Linked DNA regions of Homo sapiens. The protein of the gene in region 5 interacts with the protein of the main gene of each other region in a pairwise test. Each region holds a gene or a part of one and is shown on either strand. Other genes may lie near its edges. The genes, in order: GPRASP3, HOMER3, NGDN, HSF2BP, MFAP1, CDCA7L and ZNF41.

Region 1 (5,031 bases), on a different chromosome or scaffold from region 5:
AACCAAGAAGCTCCACTTATCCCTGAAGTTCAAAGTTTTCACTGGGGTTTTATTACATAGGCAAGATTGATTAAACCATTGGTTGTGATTGAACTTAATACCTAGCCCCACTACCTTCCCTGAAGGTTGAGCTGGCCCAAAGTTCCAACCCTTTAATCACATGGTTGGTCCTTCTGGTGACCAGTCCCCATCCTGAAGCTATCTAGGGGCCCACCATAAGTCACTTCATTAGCATAACAAAGATACTCCTGTCACACAGGAAATTCCAAGATTTTTTGAAGCTGTGTCAGCAACTAGGGATAAAGATCAGCTATATTCTCTATTATACCACACCATACTTGAAGTCTTCTCTGTTGACATACTCGAAAAAACACACAGAGACAAGAGACAAGACAGCTTGAGTAGAAAACCATAAGCTGAATGCTGGCCCCAGTACTTATATTATCAGAATTCTGGAGAGTAAAGAGAAGAAAATAATAGGAGAGGGTAGGAGACGAGGATGCAGTCCTAGGGACTAATCTCTACCTATGATTTTGCCCCACATACCTTGTATCTATCCTAGCTTTTAAGTCTAAATAGGAGGGCTTAAAGTAGTAGAACAACATAGTTTCAACTCTATAAACTTGGTATAAACATAAGGATAGGAGTGGGATTAGAAAAAGTCATTTCTTCCTAGCAACACTTTCTTACACTGACTTTGTATGTATTGTGATATATGAAGAAATCAGCATTTGATCTTTTTTATTTTGATTGAAATTTGAAATGAGTTATTTTTAAAATTTTTTAAAATTTTTAATTCACATGGATATGCAATATTTGTACATATTTATGGGGTATAAATTATATTTTGATATAAGCATAGAATGTGTAATGTAATTGAGATATACATCACCTTAAATATTTATCATTTTGTTGCACTGAGGACATTCCAAATCTATTCTTCTAATTATACTGAAATATATAATAACTATTGTTAACTATAGGCACCCTATTGTGCTACTGAACACTAGATCATATTCCTTCTAACTGTATTGTTGTACCCATTAACCAACTCCTTTTTATACCCCATCCCCAATACCCTTTCCAGCCTTTGGTAACCATAATTCTTTGTCCCATATTCCTGGCATAGAGCTCCTAGAACCCTTGCTATTTCCTGATAGGGATAACGGAAGCATCTTTTGTTACATGTGGCTTTAGTCTCAAGTTCTTGACACTAAGACCCTTGGAATCTCTGGAGTGATAGGTGTCTTTTTTTATGTTCCGAGATGACTGGTGGGTGCACTAGATAGCTTCAAGATATGGATGGTCACCAGAAAGACCAAGGCATGATTAGAGGGTTGGAACTTTCAGCCTCACCCCTTGACCTCCAAGGAGAAGAGAGGGGCTGAAGATTGAGCTAATCACCAATGGTCAATGATTTCATCAATCACGCCTATGTAATGAAACCTCTATAAAAATCCCAAATGTCTGAGAGGTTCCAGGTTGGTGAACTCATTCATATTCTGGGAAGGTGGTGTACCCCAAATCCACATGGATGGCAGCTTCTGCATTTGGGACCCTTCTGGACCTTGCCATATGTACCTCTTCATCTGGCTTTTGATTTATATCCTTTATAATGAACCAGTAATAGGAAGTAGTGTTTCCCTGAGTTCTGTGGGCCCTTATAGCAAATTATTGAACCTGAGGAGGGGGTTGTGGGAACTTCCAACTAGTAGCTAAGTCAGACAGAAGTGTGGGTGACATGGAGATCCATTACTTGTGACTGTTGTCTGAAGTGAGGGAGGGCAGTCTTATGGGAATGAGCCCTTAACCAGAGAGGTCTGCACTAACTCTGGGTAGTATCAGAATTGAATTAAATTGTAGAATACCTAGCTGATGTCCTCAAAGAATAAGAGAATTGCTTGGTGTGAAAAATCCACACATTCTGTGCCAGAAGTATTGTGGGTAGAGGAACCATTTTCTTTCACTTGGTACCCAGTGGGTGCATGGGGTAGGGGGAAAGGAGGATACTCGATGTGAAAGAGGACAAGGACTTACCATGGGGCTGCTACCTAGGATGGGACCAAAGAAACACATCCTAAGGAATGAGCAGAGATCACAACACAAGAGAGCAAAGGGTATGCAGAGGGAAACTTAGGAGACTATCCATGAAGCAGTTTCTGTAGGTGGTCCCCAGAAAGACCCTCCTCTGAGGCCCAAGACAGCAGGGAGAGAGAGCTCACACGGAGTAGCAACCCACTTTGTGTCCCTCAATGGGAATGAGATCCTGCTGCATGGGGCTGAGATCCAGGAATCCCCTTGGGGGTCGAGAAGCTTGGAGTATCCTAATGAGAAATCCTAGGTGAAGGGCCCACAGCATCTAGGTTTCCTCCCCTCGAGTCTATGTCTCCTCCTCCTTTTCCTAGAACTGCCGGGATTGAGGTTCATTCCTCTCTTGCATCCCCAGCCAGCTGGAGCCTTGGAGCAAAAGGCAGATGTATGTGTTCTCTTCTGCCCTCCTCCACCCTCCGCCAGTTTTGAGCTGGTATCAGCCATCCCCACTGCCTGAATACTGCCAGTAAGAAGACAGAGAGTAGAATGAGTGCGGACGCATAGCTCACGGTTCCCATCCCCACCCCTGCCTTTCCTGATCCAGCACCACAGGTGTTCACGAATTGTCACTTCACCATTTCCCCGCTCTGGGCTCCCCTGAAGCCAACTCCATCCATATGCCCACCTCCCCCACCCACACATACAAACACAGGGCACTGGGCTGGGAGCCTTGGGATGAGGGGTCAAGGGTGTTCAAAAGGCAGGAGGGAGCAGGCGGATCTGAGGCATTACCTGCACCCGCATCTAGTCTCAGTCACCACCTCTCAGGGATGCCATCTGCCGTCCTTGCACCCACCTCCTCCAACAGCAACCGCTGCTCCTCTCCACGAACGCGTCGGGCAGGTAGACTCTCTGCTTCTTGAGCTCCTGGACAAAAGACAGACGGGCTAAGACGCTCCCGGTTGGCTGACGGATTGTTTCCTTTACCAACAAATGCTGTAGTTCCAGTCGCCTGAGAAATTAGTTTTCAGGCTGATGCAGCATGGAAAGACACCTACCTACCTTAACATCCCGCCGTTCCTCCCACGTTCTGCTCTGCGGAGCACAGGTGTCGTCCGCCTCTCAGGTCTTTTCTGGATGCAAGAAAACACTCCTCTCGGCAGGCCTAATGCAGAGCCTGGTCACATGACCCACCGTCAGCCCCACGTGACTGCGCAGTCAGCTTGTTCGCCGCAGTCCTGTACCATGGATGACAGTCTTCTGCCTCTGGGGTGCTTGCTAGAAGATCCTGAAGCTCCTTGGCCAGACAGCTGGAAGGAAGGCTGGCCTTTGCTCTGGAGGACCACTCGGCTGGCGAGGAACATTCGATGAGGATTTGGGAAATGAAGTGATTTTTAATATTTTGTATACGACTCAAGCGACATACTAAAACACACACAGATCTGTCTTGAAAAATGCTGGTAAGCAAAACAAACATTCAAACTCCAATTTGCACCACCAGGATAATCCCTGTTAAAACTTATGGCTTGCGATGGGAGGCAAAACTGCCACTTCCATATTACCTTACCAAACTAGGATCAGGTGGGGAAAAAAAGCATGTTGCACTGTCAGAAAAATTATACCAAACTTAGATAAAGTCACCTTCAGTTACTGGATGTCATTTCAGGGCAGTGCAGGATGTCTATTGATTTACCTATTTTTCAACTCTGTAGACACTGATGTTAACATGTAGATATTTTATTCAATAAATATGTAAATGATTTATGTCCAGTGCAATAGAAAACCTTAAATGTTACAATTTATTGCCCTGTAAGATATTAACCCGTTTTATATTTAACCTGGCAGTGTTATTCTAACATTTATTAATTTCCTATGTGTTTATGAAATTCAATGTTTTGTTTATATCTTCATATTGTGTATATTGTATATACACATATACCCTTCAACTGTTTTCTTAATCCTAGCAGTTGTTGATTGTGTTGAAAAATCTTTCACATATTCTTTTTACATTTACATGAATTGTAATTTTACCTTTGAAAATTTAGAACATTCTCAGACAAATAAATGTTATGTCTAAAAATAATAAAACATTGGATATTTCTCGTACGTCTGAATTTCCTCTCCAAACCAACATATAGCCCTGTCTTCCAATTCTCCTGACTGAAGGTATTGTGTGGTCATTTTTTAAATTATCGTGGCAAAATACACATAACATAAAATTTAACATTTTAACCATTTTAAAGTATACAACCCAGTACATTATCAATGTTGTACAACCATCACCACTATCTAGCTCCAGAACTTTGTTGTCACCTCAAAAGGAAATGTTATGTTTTTTACGGTAATAATTATGTGAAAAAGGTGCCATTTTTGTACCATGAACAGACTAATATTAAACTTAACACCCTTGGTAATTTTTTTTTTTTTTGAGACGGAGTTCTGCTCTGTCACCCAGGCTGTAGTGCAGTGGTGCGACCTCAGCTGACTGCAACTTCTGCCCCCCAGGCTCAAGCGACTCTCCTGCCTCAGCCTCCCCAGTAGCTGGGATTACAGGCGCACACCACCATGCCTGGCTAAGTTTTTGTATTTTTACTAGAGACAGCATTTCGCTATGTTGGCCAGGCTGGTCTCGAACTCCTGACCTCAAGTGATCCACCCACCTCAGCCTCCCAAAGTGCTGGGATTACAAGCGTGAGCCACCGCGCCTGGCCCACCCTTGATTATTTTATTTTATTTTATTTTTTTTGAGACAAGGTCTCACTCACATCACCCATGCTGGAGTGCAGTGGTGTGACTATGACTGACTGCAGCCTCAACTTCCTAGGCTCAAGTGATTCTCCTACCTCAGCCTCCTGAGTAGCTAGGACAAGTGCGTGCCACCATGCTGGGCTAATTTTTTTTATTTTTAGTAGAGACAAGGCATCAATATGTTGCCCAGGCTGGCCTTGAACTCTTGAGCTCAAGCAATCCTTCCGCTTCGGCCTCCCAAAGGGCTGGGAT
Region 2 (4,454 bases), on a different chromosome or scaffold from region 5:
CCGTACCCATCCCCTTATCACACACCTTGGAAGAAGGAGAGAAACTTTGAAAAATGATGTACCATGGTGGGTGGGCAGGTGGCATCAGATCACAGAGGTGGCATTTAAATACATTGGGCCACATTGAGAAAGGGAAAGGAATTCCCATGTCCTCTTTTTAGGAAAGGGTCTCACTTTGTCACCCAGGCTGCAGTACAGTGGCATGATCTCGGCTCACTGCAGCCTTGACCTCCCTGGCTCAAGTGACCCTTCCACCTTACCCCTCCACCAAGGAGCTGGGACTACAGGTGTGTGCCATCATGCCCGGCTAATTTTTTCTAGAGACGGGGTCTAGCCATGTTCCCCAGAATGGCCCTTTTCCTGTTTTTTGTTTTTTTTTTTTTTGAGATGGAGTCTTGCTCTGTTGCCCAGGCTGGAGTGCAGTGACATGATCTTGGCTCACGGCAGCCTCTGCTTCAGCCTCATGAGTAGCTGGGATTACAGGCATGCACCAGCATGCCTGGCTAATTTTCATATTTTTAGTAGAGATGTGGTTTTACCATGTTGGCCAGGCTGATCTTAAATTCCCGGCTTGAAGTGATCCGCCTGCCTCAGCCTCCCAAAGTGGTGGGATTACAGGCACAGCACCCAGCCTTTTTTTTTTTTTTTTTTGGGGGGGGACAGAATCTCGCTTTGTCACCCTGGCTGGAGTGCAGTGGCACCATCTCAGCTCACTGCAACCTCTGCCTCCCAGGTTCAAGCGAGTCTTCTGCCTCAACCTCCCGAGTAGCTAGGACTACAGGCCCGTGCCACCACGCCCAGCTAATTTTTGTATTTAGTACAGATGGGGTTTCACCATATTGGCCATGCTGGTCTCGAACTCCTGACCCCGTGATCCACCCACCTCGGCCTCCCAAAGTGTGAGAATGACAGGTATGAGCCAACATGTGGGGTCCCTTTTAATCTTTATCAGGGCTATTTCAACAAAGAGAGCCTCAGGTGGGTGCTAATCTGTCTTTAACACCTGTTATTATTCCTTTATAACAAAGAGATTAGGTCTCAGGCTCTGAGAGACATCAGAAGTCAATGAGAAAGTAATCATCTCATTCTTGTTTTTGTTGTATTAAATGTTTACATGTTTACATTTACCACCTATTTATGACAAAGCAATACCAGTTTTCCAGTTAGGATAGGATATGTTTCCCCCCACCACCCCGGTTTTAAAATAAATTTCCTTAGTTTAAAAATAATTTTTTAGGCCGGGTGCGGTGGCTCACACCTGTAATCCCAGCACTTTGGGAGACCAAGGCGGGCGGATCATTTGAGGTCAGGAGTTCGAAACCAGCCTGGCCAACATGGTGAAACCCCATCTCTACTAAAAACACAAAAATTAGCCAGGCATGGTGGTGGGCGCCTGTAATCCTAGTACTTGGGAGGCTGAGGCAGGAGAATTGCTTGAGCCCAGGAGGTGGAGGTTGCAGTGAGCTGAGATTGTGCCATTGCACTCCAGCCTGGGTGACAGAGCAAAACTCTGTCTCAAAATAAATAGATAAGGCCATGTGTGGTGGCTCACGCTTGTAATCCCAGCACTTTGGGAGGCCGAGGCAGGTGGATCATGAGGTCAGGAGTTCAAGAGCAGGCTGACCAACATGGTGAAACCCCATGTCTACTAAAAATACAAAATCAGCCAGGCATGGTGGCACATGACTGTAATCCCAGCTACTTGGGAGGCTGAGGAAGGAGAATTGCTTGAACCGGGGAGGCGGAAGTTGCGGTGAGCCGAGATCGCACCATTGCACTCCAGCCTGGGGGACAAGAGTGAAACTCTGTCTCAAAAAAATAAATAAATAAATAAATAAATAAATGATTTTTTAGGCTGGGTGCAGTGGCTCACACCTGTAATCCCATCACTTTGGGAGCCTGAGGCAGGCGGATTACCTGAAGTCAGGAGTTTGAGACCAGCCTGGCCAACATAGTGAAACCCTGTCTCTGCTAAGAATACAAAAATTAAAAAAACAAAAATTTTGTAAAAATACAAAAATTAGCCAGGTGTGGTGTGTCTGTAATCCCAACTACTTGGGAAGCTGAGGCAGGAGAATTGCTTGAACCTGGAGAGAAGAGGTTGCAGTGAGCCGAGATCGGGCCACTGCACTCCAGCCTGGCAACAGAGCTAGACTCTGTCTCCAAAAAAAAAAAAAAGACCTAAATTAGAAAGGTAAATTGTTGGGGCCGGGCGCGGTGGCTCACACCTGTAATCCCAGCACTTTGGGAGGCCAAGGTGGGTGGATCACGAGGTCAGGAGATCGAGACCATCCTGGCTAACACGGTGAAACCCCCGTCTCTATTAAAAATACAAAAAAAATTAGCAGGGCGTGGTGGCAGGCGCCTGTAGTCCCAGCTACTAGGGAGGCTGAGGCAGAAGAATCAGAAGAATGGTGTGAACCTGGGAGGCAGAGCTTGCAGTGAGCCAAGATCGCGCCACTGCACTCCAGCCTGTGCGACAGAGCGAGACTCCGTCTCAAAAAAAAAAAAAAAAGTAAATTGTCTGGGTGCAGTGGCTCAAGCCTGTAATCCCAGCACTTTAGGAGGCCAAAGTGAGAGGCTCGCTTGAGGCCAGGAGTCAAGAACAGCCTGGACAACATAGTGAGATCCTATCTCTAAAAAAAATAAGATTAAAGATATTAGCTAGGCATGGTGGCATACGCCTATAGTCTCAGCTAGTCAGGAGGCTGAGGTGGGAGGATCCCTTGTGCCCAGGAGTTTGAGGCTGCAGTGAGCCATGATTGCACTGCTTCACTCCAGCCTGGACAGCAGAGCAAGATCTTGTTAAAAAAAAAAAAAAAAAGAAGGGAGGGAGGGAGGGAAAAAAAAAGAAGAAAGGTAAATTCTAAACCTTCTAGAAGAAAACAAAGAAAGCCTGGTGTGGTAGCTCATGCCTGTAATCCCAGCACTTTGGGAGGCCGAGGCAGGTGGATCATCTGAGGTCAGGAGTTCAAGACCACCCTGGCCAACAAAATCCCATCTCCACTAAAAATACAAAAATTAGCTGGGCGAGGTGGTGGGCACCTGTAATCCCAGCTACTCCAGAGGCTGAGGCAGGAGAATCGCTTGAACCCGGGAGGTGGAGGTTGCAGTGAGCCGAGATCGTGCCACTGCACTCCAGCCTGGGGGACAGAGCAAGGCATTATCTCCAAAAAAAAAAAAAAAAAAAGAAGAAGATCTTCGTGAAAGCACTCATCATCAACAAAACCACGGATAAAGATAATAATGGAAGTATAGAGACGGCACAGGGTGCAGGGAGGTGAGGATGAAGGTATTGCTGGGGCATGTGGGAAAGTGCCCAGCCCAGCCCAGCCACCCATTTGATGTCCCAAAGAGGAGCAGGGTGTGTCCAAAATTAGAGCTACAGGCAGTAGAACTAGGACTCAAGAGCAGGTACAGTGGCTCATGCCTGTAATTGCAGCACTTTGGGAGGCCGAGGCAGGCAGATCATTTCAGGTCAGGAGTTCGAGACCAGCCTGGCCAACATGGTGAAACCCTGTCTCTAATAAAATACAAAAAATTAGCTGGGCGTGGTGGCGGACTCCTGTAGTCCCAGCTACTCAGGAGGCTGAGGCAGGAGAATCGCTTGAACCCGGGAGGCGGAGGTTGCGTGAGCCAAGATCACTGCAGCCTATCTCAAAAAAAAAACAGAAAAATGAACTAGGAATCAAACCGGGGAAGCTTAAAGGGGCTTCAGTCTCAACTCATCCTACAATCCCATCCTGCAGATGGGAAGATAGGGGACCTGCCCAAGATCCCAGAGTGAGCCCAGGAGAAGACTTGGGCCCAGTCTCATCGGTTCCCTCCACTCTCCCCCTCACCCGGCCCACCTGTGTCAGATGCTGTTCAGAGGCAAAGCCCAGGCCGTAGACTGTGTTGGCGCGACTGTCGGCCCACTGCCCGAACTTCTGGGAAGTTTTGGTGAAGGTCATGTTGGGAGTGACAGTGCTGTTGATGATGGCCTAGGGTCGGGGAACAAAGTTCAAGGTAGATGGGACAGATACTAACAAACATGAAACCCCCCAGGTATTACCTTGTATTAGGGTCTTGAAGGTCTTTACTCTGAACCCTTTCAGGAGATAGAGACTAGGGCCTGGGAAGGCTTAGGGTTTCCTGTCCCTTGGGCACACAGCAAGCCAGCCACCAGACCCAAGGTTGTCACCAGGACTCCTGGTGCCTCTGCCCCACCCAGACCCCACCCTGACCTTGGCGCCTCCGATGCTGATGATGCGGTACACATTGCGGGTGGCATCGTAGAAATAGGAGACAGTGAGTGCGTGCTTGCCCGCTGGGATCCAGTTTCGCTTGGTGGCTGGGTCAATTTGGAACACGTGCGCCCGTGTGCTGAAGATTGGCTGCTCCCTGCGTGGGGAGAGGGTGTTTGGTGGGGGCCAGGCACCCCCACTTAGAAAGCTCAGGGCCAGGCTGGGGGA
Region 3 (3,939 bases), on a different chromosome or scaffold from region 5:
GTTCGAGACCAGCCTGGTCAACATGGCAAAACCCCATCTTTACTAAAAATACAAAAATTAGCCGGGCATGGTGGCGTGTGCCTGTCTGTAATCCCGGTTACTCGGGAGGCTGAGGCAGGAGAATTGTTTGAACTCAGGAGGCAGAGGTTGCAGTGAGCCGTGATCATGCCACTGTGCTGCAGCCTGGGCAGCAGAGCAAGACTCCATCTGAAAAAAACAAAACAACAACAATTAAAATATTGTAGTTTTCAAATGAAGGTCTGGTAGAACCTTCTCAGGGATTACTGGTTGGGGGCAATGTGGAAGAACAACTCTGGATCTCTCATCCCTACTTAACTGGAAAACTCTGGTATTATCTGTTTTTATATATTGAGCTTTTGTCCTAAGATATTTAGGCCAAATATTCTATGGGTAAATACAAGTATGAAAATCATTGTAATAAGAGTCACTGAAGGAGTTTTAAGCACAGGAGTTACAGCAGATTTGTGCTTACAGAAAGATAACTAAAAACAGCATTCAAAATATATTCCCTTCTTGTCTTTATCATTCACTTATGTTCTTATTGTCCATTTTTATTTAAAAAAAATTTAAATCTTTGTTTTTCTCTCATATGCTTGTAGCTCAGTTTGAATTTGACAATGCCCAAGCACGTCGGAAGAGCCTGCTTCTCAAATTCTTACCTGTTTTTGTCCTGGGTACCATGCTTTTTTGTTTTGTTTTGTTTCGTTGAGATGGAGTCTCCCTCTGTCGCCCCGGCTGGAGTGCAGTGGCACGATCCTGGCTCACTGCGGCCTCTGCCTCCTGGGTTCAAGTGATTCTCCTGCCTCAGCCTTCCGAGTAGCTGGGATTACAGGCGCCCGCCACCACTCCTGGCTAATTTTGTATTTTTAGTAAAGACGAGGTTTTACCATGTTAGCCAGGCTGGTCTCGAACTCCTGACCTCAGGTGATCCACCCACCTCGGCATCCCAAAGTGCTGGGATTACAGGTGTGAGCCACCACACCAGGCCTTGGGTACCATGCCTTGAACCATTTCAGTGCCTTTTGGAGATGGATGAGTTGCCAGCATCCTTCTTAGATCCCTATATATTTGTTTATTTATTGAACAAATACATATTAACTTATCTTTTTGACCAAAGACTTTTACTAGGTGCTTTATAGGTTACAAAGTTCTTTCACATTATCTTATTTGGGCCTCATAATTATTCTTTGTGGCAGGGAGGAAATGTACATATTTTACTGATAAGACTGAGGTTGGCCTGGTGCAGTGGGTCACGGCTGTAATCCCAGTGCTTTGGGAGGCTGAGGCAGGTGGATCACGAGGTCAGGAGTTCGAGACCAGCCTGGCCAACATGGCGAAACCCCGTCTCTTAAATCTTAAACAAAGATTTAAATTTTTTTTAAATAAAAATGGACAGTAAGAACATAAGTGAATGATAAAGACAAGAAGGGAATATATTTTGAATGCTGTTTTTAGTTATCTTTCTGTAAGCACAAATCTGCTATAACTCCTGTGCTTAAAACTCCTTCAGTGACTCTTATTAACAATGATTTTCATACTTGTATTTACCCATAGAATATTTGGCTTAAATACAAAAAATTAGCCGGGCGTGGTGGGAGGCACCTGTAGTCCCAGCTACTTGGGATGCTGAGGCAGAAGAATCACTTGAACCCAGGAGGTGGAGGTTGCAGTGAGCCGAGACAGTGCCACTGCACTCCAGCCTGGGCGACAGAGTGAGACTCCATCTCAAAAAAAAAAAAAAAAAAAAGACTGAGGTCACAAGGTTAAGTGACTTACTCAATATTTGACTACCAAACACCTAATTCAGAACTTAAACTCAGTTTGTGGACTCTAAATCCTTTGCTCTCCTTCTATACCACAGTAGTGTTGATCTCAAGAGCTTAGCATGTTGGCTTAAAGACATCCAGGGATGAGGTGTTGGAGTCAGATTGAGTTTGAATCTTAGCTCTACTTGTATTACTGTGTTATCTTGGCCAAGTATTTAACCTCTCTGAAATAGGTTTTCTCAGGGCTGTGAAGTTTGGAAGATACATAAAAGCCCAAAGAAAAAAATGAAAAATCAGTATAATCACCACTCTGAGATAACCACTGTGGTAATATTTTTGAGATTTTTAAAATTATAAGAATAATATATGCAACACTTTTTCACACTCTAAAGTACACCATTTCTTCCTTTTCCTCATCTCACCCTAGGGGTAGCAGTTACTTGTGTGTTGTCTTGTAGACATTTTTCTATGTGTATAAAATGTATTCATCATATCCCCCCCTACACACACACACTTTCACAATTGAAGTCATATTACACTTTCTACAACTTGTGGTGACATGGATTTAATTCGATGTCATTATATATAAATCATTGTTTTTACCTGTATCATATAATTCCATTGTATGGGGGGAAATTGGTAATTACTTTGATTAAATTAATTTAAAACTTGGCAGTCTGTGGAGACATTTTTGATTGTTAGAGCTTGGAGGGGCCATCCGTGGGAAGAGGCCAAGGATGCTGCTGGAAACCTACAATGCCCAGGACAGCCCTCAACAAAAAATGTTCTGGCTTCAAATGTCAATAGCTCTGAGATTGAGAAACCCTGTTATAGTCTTTTTTGGGGGGGTAGTTTATTGATTTTCCTCTTCTCATTGTCTTCTATTAATTTTCTGAGCGTTGTTTCTCTTGTATTAGCATAACTTTCTCATTGGCCTTCTTAGGCATAGCTACTTCTTGAGACTATTCCAGATACCTAATATGAACTGATTGGGAAAATCTTGAACTTGGAAAAACATCCCGTTTACCCTAGGCTTTCATCTGGTTCTTTGGCTAAAACCAAATCTGTTTTTCTTTCTGTTTTGTTCAACTCAGGGTCTCAGCTTCTTGGAAGTGAAAGACCAGCTGCTGCTCATGTACCTTATGGATTTGACCCACCTCATTCTGGACAAAGCCTCAGGAGGATCTCTTCAGGGACATGATGCAGTTTTGAGACTGGTGGAGATTCGCACGGTATGAAGCATTTGGCTTCTTGGAGTTTTAGGTTTCTAAATTTTGAGCTCCAAGGGTATCACACAGTAGCTCTCATTTAAGTGAGTCTTCTCATGTTTAAGGAAACCAAATGAGAAAAGGTATTTTTCTATTCATTTGCTCTACTTTGTACATATTTTAGGTGCCTTATGTGGCACCTTAATATAGGGACTCTGGTGTGTGCTTCATTTTGGGAAGGAAATATAATCCTGATTAACTACCATGTTGTAGGTTTTGGAAAAGCTTCGTCCCTTGGACCAAAAGCTGAAGTATCAAATTGACAAGCTGATCAAGACTGCAGTGACAGGCAGCCTTAGTAAGTGAGGAGACCATCATGAAGTTGTGGGGACCATCAGAAAGTTCCAAATTTTGTAAAATTCATTGGGTTATTTATTTCAGGTGAGAATGACCCACTTCGTTTTAAGCCTCATCCCAGCAATATGATGAGCAAGGTAAGGGGTTGTAGTATTCTCCTGATTTTTTTCTGAGGCAGCTATACCTAGATGAGCCTCTTGGTGATCCTGGATACCCTGGGATTCTCTTAGGACTTGATTTTCCAACTTGTGTGTTAGAATGCTGAGTTTGAGATTCCCTTTTTTCCCTTTTTATATTCCCACCACCCCAGGGTACTCCAGCTTTGGGTTTTCTTCTCACTTATCTCATGAATGCTTCCTAAATTTGCAGACATTGTTTCTTTTGTAGTTGAGCTCTGAGGATGAGGAGGAAGATGAAGCAGAAGATGACCAGTCTGAGGCTTCAGGGAAGAAATCTGTGAAGGGAGTGTCTAAGAAATATGTTCCTCCACGCTTGGTTCCAGTACATTATGGTATAAACTTTGGCTGCTGCCTCCTCAGCATGAACTGTTTCTCTTTTCTCTGTTCTTGGATAACCCTGCTTATTTT
Region 4 (4,454 bases), on a different chromosome or scaffold from region 5:
AGCTCACTCCAGCCAGACCAGCTAGAATGACCACCTCATCAGTCATCCTGTGTAGACGCGATGTGCCACAACTCCACCTCCTAATCCATCCTCACCCACTGTCAGGTGAATCTTTCTAAAATTCTGCTCTTATCCTATCACTTTTATTGAAAAACCCTTAGGGAAAATCCAGTCTTCCCACCTACAGAATGAATCACCAACCTGGTATTCAAGGTCCCAAAGTCACATCCCAACCTACGTTTAAGCTTTACCTCCCCACTACTCTATGACATTAACTCTCCACTGTGTCAACTGACCTACTCACTGTCCTAAAACAAACCCACCCATTTTCTGCCATTTCTACCTATTCATCAAGGCCCATTTCAAATTTATCCCCTTCTGTGAAGTTCCCTGACAAATGCCTGCACGCATGCATACATGTGCGTGTGCACGCTCCCACACACACACATGCTCCCACACACCCACACGCTCCCACACACACGATCCCACATACACAGGCTCACAGGCACACACACTCCCCCCCCACACACGCTCCCCACACACACACTCCCACACACACAGGCTCCCACATACACACACATGCTCCCACACACACACACGCTCCCCCCCCACACACGCTCCCACATACACACGCTCCCACACACACACACGCTCTCCCCACACACACGCTCCCCCAAACACACACACGCTCCCACACACACACTCACACAGTCTCACACACACACGCTCCCCCACACACACACATGCTCCCCCACACAAACACACATACGATCCCACATACACAGGCTCACACACACACACACACACTCCCCCACACACACGCTCCCCCCACACACACACACAGGCTCCCACATACACACACACGCTCCCACACACACACTCCCCCACACACACATGCTCCCATACACACACGCTCCCACACACACACGCTCCCCCCCCACACACACACACTCCCCCACACACACATGCTCCCACACACACACACAGTCACACACACATGCACATGCTCAAACACACATGCTCACACACACACGCTGCCACACACACACACAGTTGAACCTTGAAAACAAGGGTTTGAACTGCACAGGTCCACTTACACAAGAATTTTCTTCAGTAAAAGTTACACCAAGTGTGTCTGCTGCTCCAGCCTCCCCTTCCACCTCCTCCACCTCTACCACCCTTTAGACAGCAATGCCAACCCAACCACTCCTCTTCCTCCTCCTCTTCAGCCTACTCAATTTGAAGATGATGAGGGGGAAGACCTTCATGATGATCTAACATACAAAAAATGTGTTAATCAACGATTTATGTTGTCAGTAAGGCTTCCAGCCAACAGTAGAGAGAGTCAAAAGTTCTATGTGGCTTTTCGACTGTGCAGGGGGTCAGCGCCTCCAACCTCCATGTTGCTCAAGGTTCTGCATCTATATGTATGTGTGTGTGTGTGTATGTATAAACACACACACACATCTACATACATGTATATATGTTAGATAACACAATATTCAATAAATACTATATTAACCATGAGATAATATATATAAAAGCACTTTTGATCTTCTTAAACACATGTAAAGTATTAATACTGAAGTGGTAATATGTCCACATATACCACAAGGTCTCCTGGAGAGAAGGGATCTTATTTCATTCCCTTTGCATCAGGTTACAATGAACCATATACGATAAGTATTCAATAACTAGCTGATGAGTGAACAAAAGAAAATGGAAAGATATGGACTTAGTCTTTAAATGCCTTAATAAGCTATATGCTCTAATTTACACAAGCAGTAATCAACAATATCTGGAGAGCCCACTGACCATACTTACTCCTCCCAAAATGGCCTTGACGACTTCCTCACTGCTGGAGACACCCCACAAGAGGGTACACGCTGCTGCTCCCATTTCTGTACAATACTCTGCCTGCTGCAGGAGTTGCTGCTTCGCTTCATTCAACTGCTGTCGAAGAGCCAGTTTCTCCTAAAAGCAAAACAAAATTGAAAAATAAATAATAGCATTCAACCTTGATATATCTTTATTACATTTCCTCTTTCACAAAGATATTTATTAAAGAAATGCATGTATAATTATAGAAAATAGTTGCAAATGAAAGCTAGTCCTAAGAGAACCATAATCTGTATCTACAAAAGAAATTTCAAAGGCAAAAATATTTGAGAAATATCTGAGGAAAGAACATACTACCACATTATGGTTGATAAACCCACAGAGCTGAATTCATCTGCTTTAAGTAACTACATGAAATATCTCAAGCCCCAAGTAACTATACCCAGAACCAGCACCAACCGAGGCTTCTGAACAAAAACAACCTCACAAAGCAATTTACCCAGAAAGCAACATTTCTAAGACAGGAGACTGCCTCCTCCAAATGGCTCACTCCATTGAAAAAACGCCATCTGCCAGAGGCAGACACCAAATAAAAGGCACTTGGACATCAGGATTTGTAAAAAAACAAGTACTTTAGAAAAACTCATCCTGTATAAACGTATCCTTAACTCCTCATGAGAATATTGCCAAAGGTGCCAGTAAATATAAAATACAATCTGTGAAGCTAAACAGGGAAAGAAAACCTAAAACCTAAGACCAGGTAGGAAAGATGGGAGGAGGGGCAAAAAGAAGTGTGAAGGCTGGGAGTCCTATTCATGCCCTGGTGCAGCAAGCCAGTGCCAGTCTAAGAAGAAGATGGAGGCTAGGAAGAGTTTCCTACTCTCCCACCAGCAGTGTCTGAGGTGACCTGTAGCTGGGCAAGTCTCCACCATGGCACTCTTCACAAGGGAAACACAGGGAATGGCCGTCCTGATGGCCCTCCTGACAACACAAGCACACTTCGAGGATTCACCTTGAGTGTACTGCTAGAGTGATGGGGGGCTTCCTGTCCTCTCCAACCACCAGCACCAGGTACCTGAAATTCCCTTAAAAGGTGATAGCATTTCCTGATTTAATAAGACAAAAACTGAAAAATATAAAACCCCAGTTAAATTCATTTATACCAAATGTAATTAGTTACATAAACCACAAAATTAAAGTATATTAAATGCTGTAGATTTTCTTTTAGAGAGATAAATACAAGACAAAGTAGAGGGGGCTTTTCACCCCCTGGAGGAAAAAGGGAGCTTTGGAGCCACAAATCAAAACTGTTGACCTCATAACTTGGATTAGGGTGGCCCACTCATAGTTACCTGGAGACAATGCGTTTGGCACACAGAGATTCATACACATTCATACGTATATGCACACATGTATTTAAGAAAAAAATGGCCACTGAGCCTCTGGCACATGCTAATACTGCATCATGTGATCTGTCAGCTCCGGGTTTTTAATGTCTTCATTATAGCAACAATCTGGACTCCTAGATTCATCCTTTCAGTGTACGTAGCTGAACACAAGTCATGGTGACACATGAAGAAAACTATGTCACAGCACTTCCTTTTGGAATTCTAGCTTTTCTCACAACTTAAGCTGTCTGCATCTCAATTAGTCAGGATATGGTGGTTCTTCTGCACGACCACAAAAAGACTACTGAGAAGAACCAGGAAGGACTTTGCTCACTACAGTCACATTTGGTAGTTGCAGGAGGATATTCCCCAACGCAGGGTTCCACACATAGTATAATAATATCAAAAAAAAAACAAACAAACCTCAAAGAAAATCATAGCATTCCCAGTAACATCAAAAATAAGAATAATTTTTTAAGGTGCAAGACCTATACAATGAAAACTACAAAGCATTACTGAGAGAAAGTAGAGCTAAATAAAGAGATACACCATGTTCAAAAATTGGCAGGATGTCAATTCTTCCCAAACTGATCTACAGATTCAACACAATCCCTATCAAAATCTCAGCAGACTTCTGTACAAAGTGATAATCTGATTCTAAAATTTCTATGGAAATTCAAGACAGAATATCTAAAAAATTGTCTGAAAAAGAAGAACAATGTTAGAAGACTAACAGTGCCTGATTTAGAGGAAAAAACTAACTATAAACCTACCGAAATAGAACCATTGTGGTATTGCTATAAGGATGGACATATAGATCAGTGAAACACTGACATGTCAACTGATTTTAACAAAGGTGCCAATGCAATTCAATGGAAAAAGGATAGTCTTTTCAACAACTGATGCTAAAACAACCGAATATTCATATGCAAAAAAAAAATAATTCAAAATGAATCATAGGGCCGGGTGCGGTGGCTCACACCTACAATCCTAGCATTCTGGGAGGCTGAGGTGGGTGGATTGCTTGAGGTCAGGAGTTCAAGACTAGCCTGACCAACATGGTAAAACCCCGTCTCTACTAAAAATACAAAAGTTAGTTGAGCATGGTGGCACGGGCCTGTAATCCCACCTATAATCCCACCTACTCGGGAGGCTGAGGCAGGAGAATCGCTTGAACCCAGGAGGGGGCGACTGCAGTGAGCCGAGATCGTGCCACTGCACTCCAGC
Region 5 (4,454 bases):
AAGCTATTCTCCTGCTTCAGCCTCCTGAGTAGCTGGGATTACAGGTGTGTGCCACCATGCCCGACTAATTTTTGTATTTTTAGTACAGACAGGGTTTCACCATGTTGGACAGGCGGGTGTCAAACTCCTGACCTTGTGAGCCGCCCACCTCGGCCTCCCAAATTGTTGGGATTACAGGCGTGAGCCACCACGCCCGGCCTTGTGTACAATTTTAAAGGGCACTTAGACTCCTACTCCTACAGGTCCAGGATAAAAATCTTAGAAACTACAGGCTGAGGGCCAGGCGTGGTGGCTCATGCCTGTAATCCCAGCACTTTGGGAGGCCGAGGTGGGTGGATCACCTGAAGTCAGGAGTTCAAGGCCAGCCTGGCCGACATGGTGAAAACCCACCTCTACTAAAAATACAAAAATTAGCTGGGCGTGGTGGCATATACCTGTAGTCCCAGCTACGCAGGAGGCTGAGGCAGGAGAACCGCTTGACTCCCAGGGGGTGGAGGTTGTAGTGAGCCAAGATTGCGCCACTGCACTCCAGCCTGGGCGACAGAGTGAGACTGTGTCTCAAAAAAAAAAAAAAAACCAAAAACAAAAAATTACAGGCTGAGTATGGAGTTATCTACTGTGTGTAGCTCATACTCAGGCAAGTTTTCTTTTTTTCTTTTTTTTTTTTTTCCAGATAGAGTCTCACTCTGTCACCTAGGCTGGAGTGCAGTGGCACGATCTCAGCTCACCGCAACCTCTGCCTGCCGGGTTCAAGCGATTCTCTTGCCTCCGCCTCCCGAGTAGCTGGGAATAACAGGCACACACCACCACACCCAGCTAATTTTTGTATTTTAGTAGAGATAGGTTTTCACCATGTTGGCCAAGCTGGTCTTGAACTCTCAGCCTGAAGTGATTCGCCTGCCTCAGCCACCCAAAGTGCTGGGATTATGGGTGTGAGCCATCACGCCCAGCCTAGAGTTATCTATTGATGGTTTCCTTTGTAATCTGGGATTACCCTCTCATACCTAGTAATTTACAGGAATGAGTGATGCAGCTCAGAAATGATTCTGCTGGGGCCGGGCATGATGGCTCATGCCATAATCCCAGCACTTTGGGAGGCCGAGTTGGGTGGACAACCTGAGATCATGAGTTCGAGACCAGCCTGACCAACATGGTGAAACCCTGTCTGTACTAAAAATACGAAAATTAGCCAGGCATGGTGGCGCATGCCTGTAATCCCAGCTACTTGGGAGGCTGAGGCAGGAAAATCACTTGAACCTGGCAGGCGGAGGCTGCAGTGAGCTGAGATTGTGACACTTCACTGCAGCCTGGGTGAAAAGTGAAACTTCATGTCAAAAAAAAAAAAAAAAGATTCTGCTCTAACACAGTGTAGATTATTTAAGTGCCACAAATTCTTCCCCTCACAGTATGTATGCCCCTTTTCAAAAAGTATGACTTTGCTGCTCCTCCTCTGCAGAGGTGGAGTCTGTTTCTCCACCTGCTTAAAGCTAGGTTGGCCTTGTGACTTGCTTTGACCAGTATGTGGCAAGATCGATGTATGAGTTCTGGAACCGACATGTCAGAAGACCTTGCCCTCTTAGAATGGTGCCCTGAGACTGCTATGTAAGGAAGCCAGTCTAATCCAGTGAAGGATAAGTGAGGTATCCTAACTGATAGCCACCACCTACTACTAACATGTGAGTGAAGCCCTTTTAAGTTTCCAGCCCAGTCAACCTTCCAGCTGGATGCAACTACATAAGTAAGCCCAGGTGAAATCAGTAGAGGAACTGTTCAGCCAACCTCCAAAGTTGTGAAAAGTAATAAATTATAGTTTCAAGTCACTCAATTGTGGGTTGGGTTGTACACAAGAAGAGATAACTACTAACAGTTACTAATTTTTGTGTCTACTAGGAAACTAAAGGGAGCACTGGCTGGCACTCTATTATGGACACACATCGACAAAGTGTTTTTCTCTTCCCTGATTTCACTGTAGCAAGTGAAACTCATATTCCAATTATAGGAAACTCACAAAGCAACAAGAACTCTGAAGGTGGCTAGAATGGAACTCACAGTAGGTAATGAGTCTCAGAGCTATCCTGCTAGAAACCTGTTCCATTAGCAGCATTAACTCTAGGCTCATCTTTTTACTCACGCTTCTCGATCTTCTCTGTCCCTCTTGATTCTTTTTAGCTCTCGAACTTTCCATGCCTCATATTCCTCCTCATCATTTTCATCATCAGTATTGAGTGCATCCAATGCAGCCAGGGATCGCTTGTTCTCTTCCAGCTCTTTTTTGGTTTCCTCTTCGACAATCTGGATAGGGAGAACAATTCAGCTTGGACTTCCTTACTCTCCTCAGACAAACCTGATTACACTATTTCTTGTACTCATTCCTTGCAACCACTCCCCAGTACCTTGAGTGTGTACTTGCGCCTTTCCTCAGCCATGCGTTTTGCTTCCTGCTCCAGCTCCTTCTGTTTCAATGCTTCGGCTTCACGTTCTTGAACTGTCACTCGGTCCTTCCTGCATCACAGAGATCCTGTTAATTGCCCAAAGTCCTTAGAGTGGAGTGCTTTGTTCCCCTAGACCTAGTCCCATCCAAATCAGACAAAAACCAAACAATCTTTGGCTCTATTATTTTCAAAGAGCAAAAAACGCTGAGTCATCCCAGGTCTTTTTTTTTTTTTTTTTTTTTGAGACGGAGTCTCACTTGTCGCCTAGGCTGCAGTGCAGTGGTGTGATCTTGGCTCACTGCAACCTCCGCCTCCTGGGTTCAAGCAATTCTCTGCCTCAGCCTCCTGAGTAGCTGGGATTACAAGAGTCTGCCACCACACCTGATTAATTTCTTTGTATTTTTAGTAGAGATGGGGTTTCACCATCTTGGCTAGGCTGGTCTTGAACTCCTGACCTCCTGATCCACCTACCTCAGCCTCCCAAAGTGCTGGGATTACAGTCGTGAGCCACCGTGCCCAGCCATCATCCCAGGTCTTTAGAGGACTAAAATCATGTTCATCTTTGAGAACTGCCTAGACAGCAAAGAACCTGCTGGCCTCTAAGCAGTAGGATTTCTAGCCATCAGGAAAGGAATAGGAATTTGCTCGTTGAGTTTAATTTTGTGCTTAAAAATATATGGCCTTGGCTTGGTGCCGTGGCTCATGCCTGTAATCCTAGCACTTTGGGAGGCTGAGGAGGACGGATCACCTGAGGTTGGGAGTTCGAGACCAGCCTGACCAACATGGAAAAACCCCCTCTCTACTAAAAATACAAAATTAGCCAGGCGTGGTGGCGCATGCCTGTAATCCCAGCTACTCGGGAGACAGAGGCAGAACTGCTTGAAACCAGGAGGTGGAGGTTGTGGTGAGCCGAGATCATGCCATTGCACTCCAGCCTGGGCAACAAGAGCGAAACTCTGTCTCAAACAAACAAAAAAAGGCCTTGGACAGATATATGCTCTATTACTGAAAAAAGAGATGTGAAAACAAACTCAGGTTCTCTGCTAACGCCAAGATATTCCTCAGCAGCTAGTCTGCCAAGGGTAGAGCACTAGCAAAAGCACTTTCACTCAGCGTTTAGATTTCAGAATAGCAAGACAGAAAACAGACTTTTGTCTCCAGGCCTGGAAAGTGGTAATTAAGTGGATTCAGATCTGGCTTGTGAGATACTTACTTTCGAATGAAGACTGGCTTAAGGCGAGGCTCCATCTCATCTTCACTGTCTGTGTACTCTTCATACTCAGACTCTGATTCTGACTCCTCTCCAGAACGACCCTCATCTTCCACTTCCATGACTTCCATCTCTTCATTTTTTCTCTCCTGTGCTCGCTGACGCATCATGCCACGCCGCCGCTCTATTTCCTATCAAGTCATATATATAAGCCAGTCAGTCAAATGGCCTATGGCTTTTTGTTCGTCTCATCAAACACAACAAATTCAAATGTAAAAAGATACAACTTAGTATCATTCTATTTTTAATCCTATCCCCACAAACAAGGAACATGATCAGAGTCCTGCCAAAGCAGTGATCTCATGTTTTTAAGGCTTCAACAAATGAGCACTGGCATGAACTTTTTCTTATATCCAGAAAAAAACTTCCCATGTTCCTTTATCATACCTCATCATCAATTTCCTCCTCCTCTTCTTCACTGCTGTCTTCTCGTTCCATGCGCCAAGCATCTCCTTCTACTTCTGAGTCACTCTCTCCTACCACTTCAGGTTCCACTATTTTTCGATGTCGAGCCAATCTGAAAAACAGTATCTCCAAATGTAACACCAATGTCATAAAAATGAAGTAGCATCAACTGCATTTCCATAGCCACAGAGCACATTATGTTTGCCTTCATTAATACTGAAGTTTTTTTTTTTTTGAGGCAGGGTCTTGCTCTGTCGCCCAGGCTGCAGTGCAGTGGTGCGATCTTGGCTCACTGCCACCTCTGCCTCCCAGACTCAAGTGATCCTCCCACCTCAGCCTCCTGAGTA
Region 6 (4,454 bases), on a different chromosome or scaffold from region 5:
AGGAAACAAAGATTAAAACAGATATGAATAGAATAGATAATAGAATAAGAGAAAAATCAATGAAGCCAAAAGTTTATTCTTTGAAAAAAAAAATCAACAAATTGGCAAATCTTAAGCTACATGACTAGAAAATATACAGAGAAAACTCAAATTACTAACGTTAGTAATGAAATTGGACATTACTACCAATTTTACATAAATAAAAAGGACTGGCCAGGCGCTGTGGCTCACGCCTGTAATCCCAACACTTTGAGAGGCAGAGGTGGGTGGATCACAAGGTCAGGAGTTCAAGACCAGCCTGGCCAAGATGGTGAAACCCCATCTCTACTAAAAATGCAAAAAAATTAGCCAGGCTTGGTGGTGGGCGCCTGTAATCCCAGCTACTTGGGAGGCTGAAACAGAGAACTGCTTGAACCCAGGAGGCGGAGGTTGCAGTGAGCCGCTACTGTGCCACTACACTCCAGCCTGGGCGACAGAGCAAGACTCCGTCTCAAAATGAATAAATAAATAAATAAATAGGATTTTAAGAGTACTATAAACAACCGTATGCCAACAAATTGGATTATCTAGATATAATGGATAAATCCCGAGAAACAAACAACCTAGCTAGATTAAATTATGAAGAAACAGAAGATCTGAATATATTTGAAATAAGGATTTTAAGTAGTAATCAAAACCCTCCCAACAAAGTAAACCCCAGGACAAGATGGCTTCATGGGTAATTCTACCAAACATTTAAAGAAGAACAAACACCAGTCTTTCTCAAAGTCTTCCAAAAACTTGAAGAAGGAGGAACACTTGAAACTCATTCTATGTGACCAGCATTATCCTGATACCAAAGCCAGAGAAAGATACTAGAAAACTATACAGCCATATCTCTTACGAATACTGATACAAGAATACTCAACAAAATGCAGGTAAAACAAATTCGGCAGTGTAGCAAAAGGATTATACAAGATCACCAAGTGGCATTTATTCTAGGAATGCAAAATGGTTCAAACACATAAAAATCAATTAATGTAGTACACCCTATGAACAGAATAAAGGGGAAAAACAAAGATCATCTCAACTGATGCAGAAAAACATCTGACAAAATTCAACACCCTTCCCTCATCAGAAAAAAAAAAAATAGAAGGAAACTTAAACTCACCAACATAAGGCTATATACGAAAAACCCGCAACTAACAAGATACTCAATGATGAATGGAAGATTGAAAGCTTTTCCCCTAAGATCAGGAGCTAGACAAATATGCCTGCTTTTACCACTTCTATTCAACGCAGTATTGGGAGGTCTAGCCAGACCAATCAGGCAAGAAAAATAAATAACGCATCCAAATTGGAAAGGAAGAAGCAAAATTTATCTCTGCTATAAGAGACGTGATTATATATGTAGAGAACACTAGAGATTACACAAAAAGTAGTTAGAGCTAACAATTAGACATTGCAGGACACAAAATCAACACAAAAATCAACTATGCTTCTACACACTAACAATGAACAATTATGAAAATTAAGAAAACGATTCCATTTACAATGGCATCAGAATAATAAAGTACTTAGAAATAAGTTTAACCAAAAAGGCGAAAAAAGCCTTGTACACTGAAAACTACATCCCCGAAAAAATCAAGGAAGACAAGGAAATGGAGAACCATCCCATGTTCATGGATTGGAAGGCTTAATATAAGGTGACAATACTAACTGAAGCTATGTACAGACTCAATGTATTCCTTCTCAAACTCTCAGTGACTTCTTTCGTAAAAACAAAAGTCCATCCTAAAATTAATGTGGAATCTCAAAGGACCCTAAATAGCCAAAACAATCTTAAAAAAGAAGAACAGACCAGGCGCAGTGGCTCACACCTGAAATCCTAGCACTTTGGGAGGCTGAGGTGGGCAGACTGCCTGAACTCAGGAGTTTCAGACCACCCTGGGCAACATGGTGAAACCCCATCTCTACTAAAATACAAAAAAAAATTAGCCAGGCATGGCAGCATGTGCCTGTAGTCCCGGCTACTCGGGAGGCTGAGGCAGGAGAATTGCTTGAACCCAGGAGGCAGAGGTTACAGTGAGCCGAGATTGCACCACTGCACCCTAGCCTAGGTGACAGAACAAGACTCCATCCCTTAAAAAAGAAAAAAAAAAAAAAGAACAGTGTTAGAGGACTCACATTTCCTGACTTCAATACTTACTACAAAGCTATAGTAATCAAAACAGTGTGGTCTTGGCATAAAGGCAGACATATATATCAATGGAAATGAATAAAGAGCCCAGATACAAACCCTTGCATATACAGTTAACTAATTTTCAACAAGGATGCCAAGAATAATGGCAAAGAACAGTATTTTCAACAAACAGTGCTGGGAAAATTGGATTAGGTTGGACCCTTACCTTAAGCCATCTATAAAAACTAACTCAAGATGGATCAAAGATCTAAATATAAGAGCTAAAACTATAAAACTCATGGAAGAAAATACAGGGGAAAAGTTTCATGACACTGAATTTGGCAATAATTTCTTGGATATGGCAACAAAAGAAAAATAAATAAACTAGACCTCAAAATTAAAAACTTTTGTGCAAAGGGCGCTATCAAGACAGTGAAAAGGCAACCTATATAGAATGAGAGAAAATATTTGCAAATAATATCTAATAAGGGATTAATATCCAAGATATATAAATAACTCACTTAACAACTACAAAAACCCAGTTAAGAAATGGGCAAAGGACTTGAATTAACATTTCTTCAAAGAAGAGGTACAGGTGACCAACGGGCACAAGAAAAAAATTCTTAACATCACTAATCATTGGGGAAATGCAAAACAAAACCACGATGAGATACCACTTTATGCACATTAGAATGGCCATTAAAAAAAAATCCAGGAAAGAACTAGGGCTGGCAAAGACGTGAAGAAATTGGAACACTCGTGCACTGCTTATGATGATATAAAATGACACAGCCACTGTGCCAAACAGTATAGTGGTTTCTGAAAAAATTGAATTTAGTATTATCATATAACCCAGCAATTCTACTTTTAGGAACACACACCCAGAACAACTGAAAGCAGGGACTGAAGCAGATATTTGTATGCCAATGTTTATTCATTGGTATTTACAATAGCCAAAAGGTGGAAACAACCGACAACATAAATAGATGAGTAAATAAAGATGGTATGTACACATAAGAGTATTATTCAGACTTTAAAAGAAATGACGTCAGGCACAGTGTCTTATGCCTCTAATCCCAGCACTTTGGGAGGCCAAGACAGGAGGATTGCTTGAGCCCAGGAGTTCAAGACCAACCTGGGCAACACAGAGACTCCATCTCTACCAGAAATTTTAAAAAGAAAAATTAGCCAAGCAGGGTAGTACATACCTATAGTCCCAGCTACTCAAGAGGTTGCAGTGGGAGGATCACTTGAGCCCAGGAGGTCAAGGCGCAGTGAGCCACGATAGCACCACTGCACTCCAGCCTGGGCAACAGAGTGAGACCCTGTCTCAAAAGAGAAATAATTGAAAAAAAATTCTGATACATACTATAACATGGATAAACTTTAATAACAATGTTAAGTGAAATGAGCCAGTGACAAAAGGACAAATACCATATGATTCCACTCATATGAGATACCTAGGATAGTCATATCCTCAGAGACAGAAACTAAAACAGAAGTAACCAGGGGCTGGAGGAAGAGGTCATAGGGGTAATTGTTTAGTAGGTAGAGAGTTTCAGTTTAAAATGATGAAAAAGCTCATGAGAGATCAGTGATGGCGGCACAACATTGTGACTATACTTAGTAACACTGAAAGGTTAAAAATAGTACCTTTTATTATGTATATCTTACCACAATAAAAAGCCCCACAGGGTAGTCAATGTTATGTTTAAAAGAGAAGAAATAAATGGGAAGTCATTTTAGATATGTATTTACACAGGTCTTAGAAGAGCTATTCAGCAGATGAGTACCTAATGAACTGGAATTTTGGCAGAGATCCTGGGAGTGAAGTGAACCAAATCACTTGGGAAGTGTGAAGTAATTTCCTCCTCCAGGGAGGTCAGCAGATAGAACATGTGAAGCCAATGTTAAGATTTCTCTGGAGTCTAAAAGATTATCAAATTGGACAAGTCTGTTCTCAGTGTTTTCCAACAAGGTGCAACTGACGTTTTGGACAGAACAACTGCTTCATCCTGTAGGACTCTCCTGCCTGCCACATGGTACTTAATACCCCTGAACTCCAAACCACTTACCAGGGGCATTCCCCTCACCCTCATCACTCTAACAATCAAAAAGAAACCCACCCACGTTTGTTACCACGACTACCATGACCCCAGATCACTCAGATGACAACCACAGAGTGATTGAATCCAAAACTGAAATAGGAGCACCCTGGTCTGTTAGGATATGACAAGCTATAAAGCAGTAGCAAACAACCCTAAATCTCAATCAATAGCTTCAAACCAAAAAA
Region 7 (4,454 bases), on a different chromosome or scaffold from region 5:
CCAGTACTTTGGGAGGTCGAGGCAGGCGGATCACTTGAGGCCAGGAGCTCGAGACCAGCCTGGCTGAAGTGGCGAAACCCTGTCTCTACTAAAAATACAAAAATGAGCTGGGTGTGGTGATGCGCACCTGTAATCCCAGCTACTTGGGAGGCTGAGGCACGAGAATTGCTTGAACCCGGGAGGCAGAGATTGCAGTGAGCCGAGATGGCACCACTACGCTCCAGCCTAGGCAACAGAGCGAGACTCTGTCTCAGAAAAACAAACAAACAACAACAACAACAAACACCCACAGAAAGAGAGGAAATACATGCAAATCGCATATGTGACAAGGGACTTCTATCGAGATTATCTAGAGAACTCTTACAACTTGATAATACAAAGACAATTCAATTTAAAAATAGGCCAAGGATTTGAATAGATATTTCTTCAAAGAAGATATACAGATGGGCAATAAGTACAGGAAAAGATGGTCAACATCAGTGGCCACTAGAGAAATGGAAATCAAAACCACAAGATACCACTTCACACCTACTAGGAAGGATAGAATTAAAAAGACAATAAGCATTAGCAAGGATGTGATAAACTGGAACCCTCATACATTGCTGCTGGGACATAAAGTGGTGCAGCCGTTTTGGAAAATGGTTTGGCAATTCTTCAAAATGTTAAAAATAGAAGGCTGGGCGCAGTGGCTTATGCCTGTAATCCCAGCACTTTGGGAGGCTGAGGCGGGTGGATCGCTTGAGGTCAGGAGATCGAGACCAGCCTGGCAACATGGTGAAACCCCATCTCTACTAAAAGTACAAAAATTAGCTGGGCATGGTGGTGGGTGCCTGTAATCCTAGCTACTTGGGAGACTGAGGCAGAAGAATCCTCAGCCTCCTGAGTAGCTGGGACTACAGGCACGCGCACCACACCCAGCTAATTTTTGTATTTTTAGTAGAGATGGGGTTTCACCATGTTGGCCAGGCTGGTCTCGATCTCCTGACCTCATGATCCGCACGCCTCGGCCTCCCAAAGTGTTGGGATTACAGGCGTGAGCCACAGCACCCGGCCTTTTTTTGGAGACTGAGTCTCGCTCTGTCACCCAGGCTGGAGTGCAGTGGCACGATCTCTGCTCACTGCAACCTCTGCCTTCCGGGCTCAAGCGATTCTCCTGCCTCAGCCTCCCAAGTAGCTGGGATTACTGGCGCCCGCCGCCACGCCCAGCTAGTTTTTGTATTTTTAATAGAGATGGTGTTTCACCATGTTGGCCAGGCTGGTCTCAAACTCCTGACCTCAGGTGATCCACCCACCTCGGCCTCCCAAAGTGCTGGGATTACAGGCGTGAGCCACCGTGCCCAGCTGGAATGCCACATTCTTACTATCAAGGCCAGGAAATTGAGAGCAAGAGAATTGTGTACAGATCTTATGAAAAATAACTTTTTTTCTTGGAGAAATAAGCCAAAAAAATTTTTTAAAACTCTTATGTTTTAAGCCTCCCCACATAACTGAGTTGCTTTTTCACAACTTAAGTATTCTTTGTCCAATCCAGTATATAAGTGATTGACTCTAACTACTACTTTGGGTCTTCATTTCTTTATGAAGGCTCCTGTGCCACATAAAACTTGTATTAAATAAATCTGTACACTTTTCTCTGTTGATCTGTCATATGTCAATTTAACTTTCAGGCCCAGACAAAAAGAAATCCTAAAAGGGAAGAGGTAAATTTCTACCTCACTCCTTATACCAGTCATTCCACTCCTGGGTATCCACCCAAGAGAAATGAAAACATATGTCCATACAAAAACTTGTACGCAAATGCTCATAGCAGCATTATTCATAATAGCTAAAAAGTGGAAACAACCCAAATGTCCATCGACTGATGAATGGATAAACAAAATGTGGTGTATCCATACAATGAAATATCATTCAGGAATAAAAAGACATGAAGTACTTCTAAAATAAACTGATAGAAACAGATAGTAGAATGGTGGTTGCCAGGGGCTGAGAGGAGGGGGTAATAAGAAGTTGCTATTCAACGGGTTAAAATTTCAGGTATACAAGAGGGAAGTTCTAGAGATTGGCTGTATATTGCACCTATAGTTAACAGTACTGTATTGTGCACTTAAAAATTTAAGAGAATACGCCACATGCGGTGGCTCACACCAGTAATCCCAGCACTTTGGGAGGCCGAGGCAGGTAGATTACTTGAGGTCAGGAATTCGAGACCAGCCTGACCAATATGTTGAAATCCTGTCTCTACTAAAAATACAAAAAATTAGCCAGGTGTGGTGGCACGCACCTATAGTCCCAGCTACGTGGGAGGCTGAGGCAGGAGAATTGCTTGAACCTGGGAGGTGGAGGTTGCAGTGAGCCGAGATCATGCCACTGCACTCCAGCCTGGGTGACAGAGCGAGACTCTGTCACAACAAAACAAAACAAACAAACCAAATTTAAGAGGGTGGCTTTCATGTTAAGTGTTCGTACCACAACAAACAAAATAATAAAAGGAATAAGGTCCTAATACATACTATAACACGGATGAGCTTTGAAAACATTAGGCTAAGTTAAAGAAAACAATCATGGCCGGACACAGTGGATCATGCCTGTAGTCCCAGTACTTTGGGAGGCTGAGGTGGGCGGATCACCTGAGGTCAGGAGTTCAAGACCAGCCTGGCCAATGTCTCTACTAAAAATACAAAAGCTAGCCGGGCGTGGTGGCAGGCGCCTGTAATCGCAGCTACTTGGGAGGCTGAGGCAGGGAGAATTGCTTGAACCCAGGAGGCGGCAGCTGCAGTGAACTGAGATCCGGCCACTGCACTCCAGCCTGGGCGACAGAGTGAGACTCTGTCTAAAATAAATAAATAAGGCAATCATAAAAGACCACGTTTTATGATTCCATTTATATAAAATGTCTAGAATAGACCAATCTATAGAGACAGGAAGTAAATTAGTGGTTGCCTGTGGCTAGGGGTGAGGGTTGGGAATGAGGAATGATTGCTAATGGGTACGATGTTTCCTTTTGGGATGATAAAATACTCTAAAATTAGATTGTGATGATGGTTGCACAATTCAGTGAATATGCTAAGAACTGCTGAACTGTAAGCTTTAAATGGGTGAATTTTATGGTAGATGAATGATACAATAAAGCTGTTAGAAAAAAAAAATCATAGCTAGTAAGTGCCAAGCAGGGTTGCAAAGCCAATGTCTGGCAAGGGGTAGGTATTCAATAAATGTTTATTGAATAGATTAATGAATAAACACCTTTCACATTCAAATAAAAAATGCCCAAGTTATTTTCATTAACATTAGCAACAAGATAGCAAATACCCTCTATTAAATGTCACTCAACATTGTTCTGAAAGCTCTAACTAGTGCAACAGAAGATGAGGTGATCAGAATAAATATTTGAAAGGAAGAGACAGTATCATTTTTAATTGGATGGAATACGATAGCTAGGAAAAGTAAGAGACTGTAAAAAGCAACTACATTCATATGATAATTTGGTAATTGGATTGAATATGAAATAAAATTATAAAAATAGATTTTCCCTATGGAAATAGAAAAAAAATATGCTATTCACAATGATGATAAAAACAAAGGTAAAATATCTAAGGATGAACTGTTAAAAAAAAAAAAAGGTGTTGGACCCATAAGAAAACTATAAAAATTATAGTTTTAGTGGTTATTTTTGAAACTAGATAAAATAGTTTTAACATTTACATGGAAGAATAAGGCTGGGTGCGGTGGCTCATGCCTGTAATCCCAGCACTTTGGGAGGCCGAGGCACGCAGATCACGAGGTCAGGAGTTTGAGACCAGTCTGGTCAATATGGTGAAACCTCGTCTCTACTAAAAATACAAAAATTAGCTGGGCAGGGTGGCACGCGCCTATAGTCCCAGCTACTTGGGAGGCTGAGGCAGGAGAATTGTTTGAACCCGGGAGGTGGAGGTCGCAGTGAGCCAAGATTGCGCCACTGCACTCCAGGCTAGGTGACAGCAGAGCAAGACTCCATCTCAAAAAAAAAAGAAGAAGAATAAACGCACAAGAAAATTAATTAAAGCAACCAAAAAGAAAGCAAGGGGGACTAGTTCTACATGATGTTAAAACTATTTCTAAAGTCAATATGATTTTTTAAAAAGGAGTAGATACATATATCAGAAGAACTAAACAGAGTTCAGAAATAAAACAATACACATTTGGGAACTTATGTGACAAAAGTGACATTTAATTGAATTAGAAAAGGGTATTCATTTAACGACTGGTGCTGGAAAATTAGCTATCCAAATGGAATATACGAACTGATTCCATCTCATACCATACACCAAAATAAATTCCAGTTAGATTAAAATTTAACTTTAAAAAATTGAAATAAATATATTAAAAATAAATTTAAGGCGTATTTGTTTGAACATGAAATGAGGAAGTCACTAGGCAAGACAAGACACTCAGAACCTGTAAAGGAAAAAGGCAGA

The links.
Region 1: the proteins of MFAP1 (region 5) and GPRASP3 interact in binary tests that used the Homo sapiens proteins (3 or more experiments, as listed by UniProt).
Region 2: the proteins of MFAP1 (region 5) and HOMER3 interact in binary tests that used the Homo sapiens proteins (3 or more experiments, as listed by UniProt).
Region 3: the proteins of MFAP1 (region 5) and NGDN interact in binary tests that used the Homo sapiens proteins (3 or more experiments, as listed by UniProt).
Region 4: the proteins of MFAP1 (region 5) and HSF2BP interact in binary tests that used the Homo sapiens proteins (3 or more experiments, as listed by UniProt).
Region 6: the proteins of MFAP1 (region 5) and CDCA7L interact in binary tests that used the Homo sapiens proteins (3 or more experiments, as listed by UniProt).
Region 7: the proteins of MFAP1 (region 5) and ZNF41 interact in binary tests that used the Homo sapiens proteins (3 or more experiments, as listed by UniProt).

The regions. Positions count from the first base shown.
Region 1 is NC_000023.11:102,718,884-102,723,914, reverse strand, and holds the start of GPRASP3 (G protein-coupled receptor associated sorting protein 3), read right to left. Parts: upstream 3,173-5,031; 5' UTR 3,090-3,172; intron 2,959-3,089; 5' UTR 2,824-2,958; intron 2,552-2,823; exon of another isoform or gene 1-2,551. UniProt on the Homo sapiens protein: Survival and differentiation promoting protein that plays a role in the regulation of neurosynaptogenesis. Induces phosphatase PP2A activity which results in APP dephosphorylation and inhibits BACE1-mediated processing of APP.
Region 2 is NC_000019.10:18,934,502-18,938,955, forward strand, and holds part of HOMER3 (homer protein homolog 3), read right to left. Parts: intron 4,384-4,454; coding exon 4,227-4,383; intron 3,984-4,226; coding exon 3,852-3,983; intron 1-3,851. UniProt on the Homo sapiens protein: Postsynaptic density scaffolding protein. Binds and cross-links cytoplasmic regions of GRM1, GRM5, ITPR1, DNM3, RYR1, RYR2, SHANK1 and SHANK3.
Region 3 is NC_000014.9:23,472,290-23,476,228, forward strand, and holds part of NGDN (neuroguidin), read left to right. Parts: intron 1-2,881; coding exon 2,882-3,019; intron 3,020-3,268; coding exon 3,269-3,353; intron 3,354-3,436; coding exon 3,437-3,489; intron 3,490-3,739; coding exon 3,740-3,863; intron 3,864-3,939. UniProt on the Homo sapiens protein: Part of the small subunit (SSU) processome, first precursor of the small eukaryotic ribosomal subunit.
Region 4 is NC_000021.9:43,631,448-43,635,901, forward strand, and holds part of HSF2BP (heat shock factor 2-binding protein), read right to left. Parts: intron 1,975-4,454; coding exon 1,825-1,974; coding exon of another isoform or gene 1,816-1,824; intron 1-1,815. UniProt on the Homo sapiens protein: Meiotic recombination factor component of recombination bridges involved in meiotic double-strand break repair.
Region 5 is NC_000015.10:43,810,856-43,815,309, forward strand, and holds part of MFAP1 (microfibrillar-associated protein 1), read right to left. Parts: intron 4,220-4,454; coding exon 4,090-4,219; intron 3,834-4,089; coding exon 3,646-3,833; intron 2,503-3,645; coding exon 2,394-2,502; intron 2,293-2,393; coding exon 2,132-2,292; intron 1-2,131. UniProt on the Homo sapiens protein: Involved in pre-mRNA splicing as a component of the spliceosome.
Region 6 is NC_000007.14:21,935,516-21,939,969, forward strand, and holds part of CDCA7L (cell division cycle-associated 7-like protein), read right to left. Parts: intron 1-4,454. UniProt on the Homo sapiens protein: Plays a role in transcriptional regulation as a repressor that inhibits monoamine oxidase A (MAOA) activity and gene expression by binding to the promoter.
Region 7 is NC_000023.11:47,476,101-47,480,554, forward strand, and holds part of ZNF41 (zinc finger protein 41), read right to left. Parts: intron 1-4,454. UniProt on the Homo sapiens protein: May be involved in transcriptional regulation.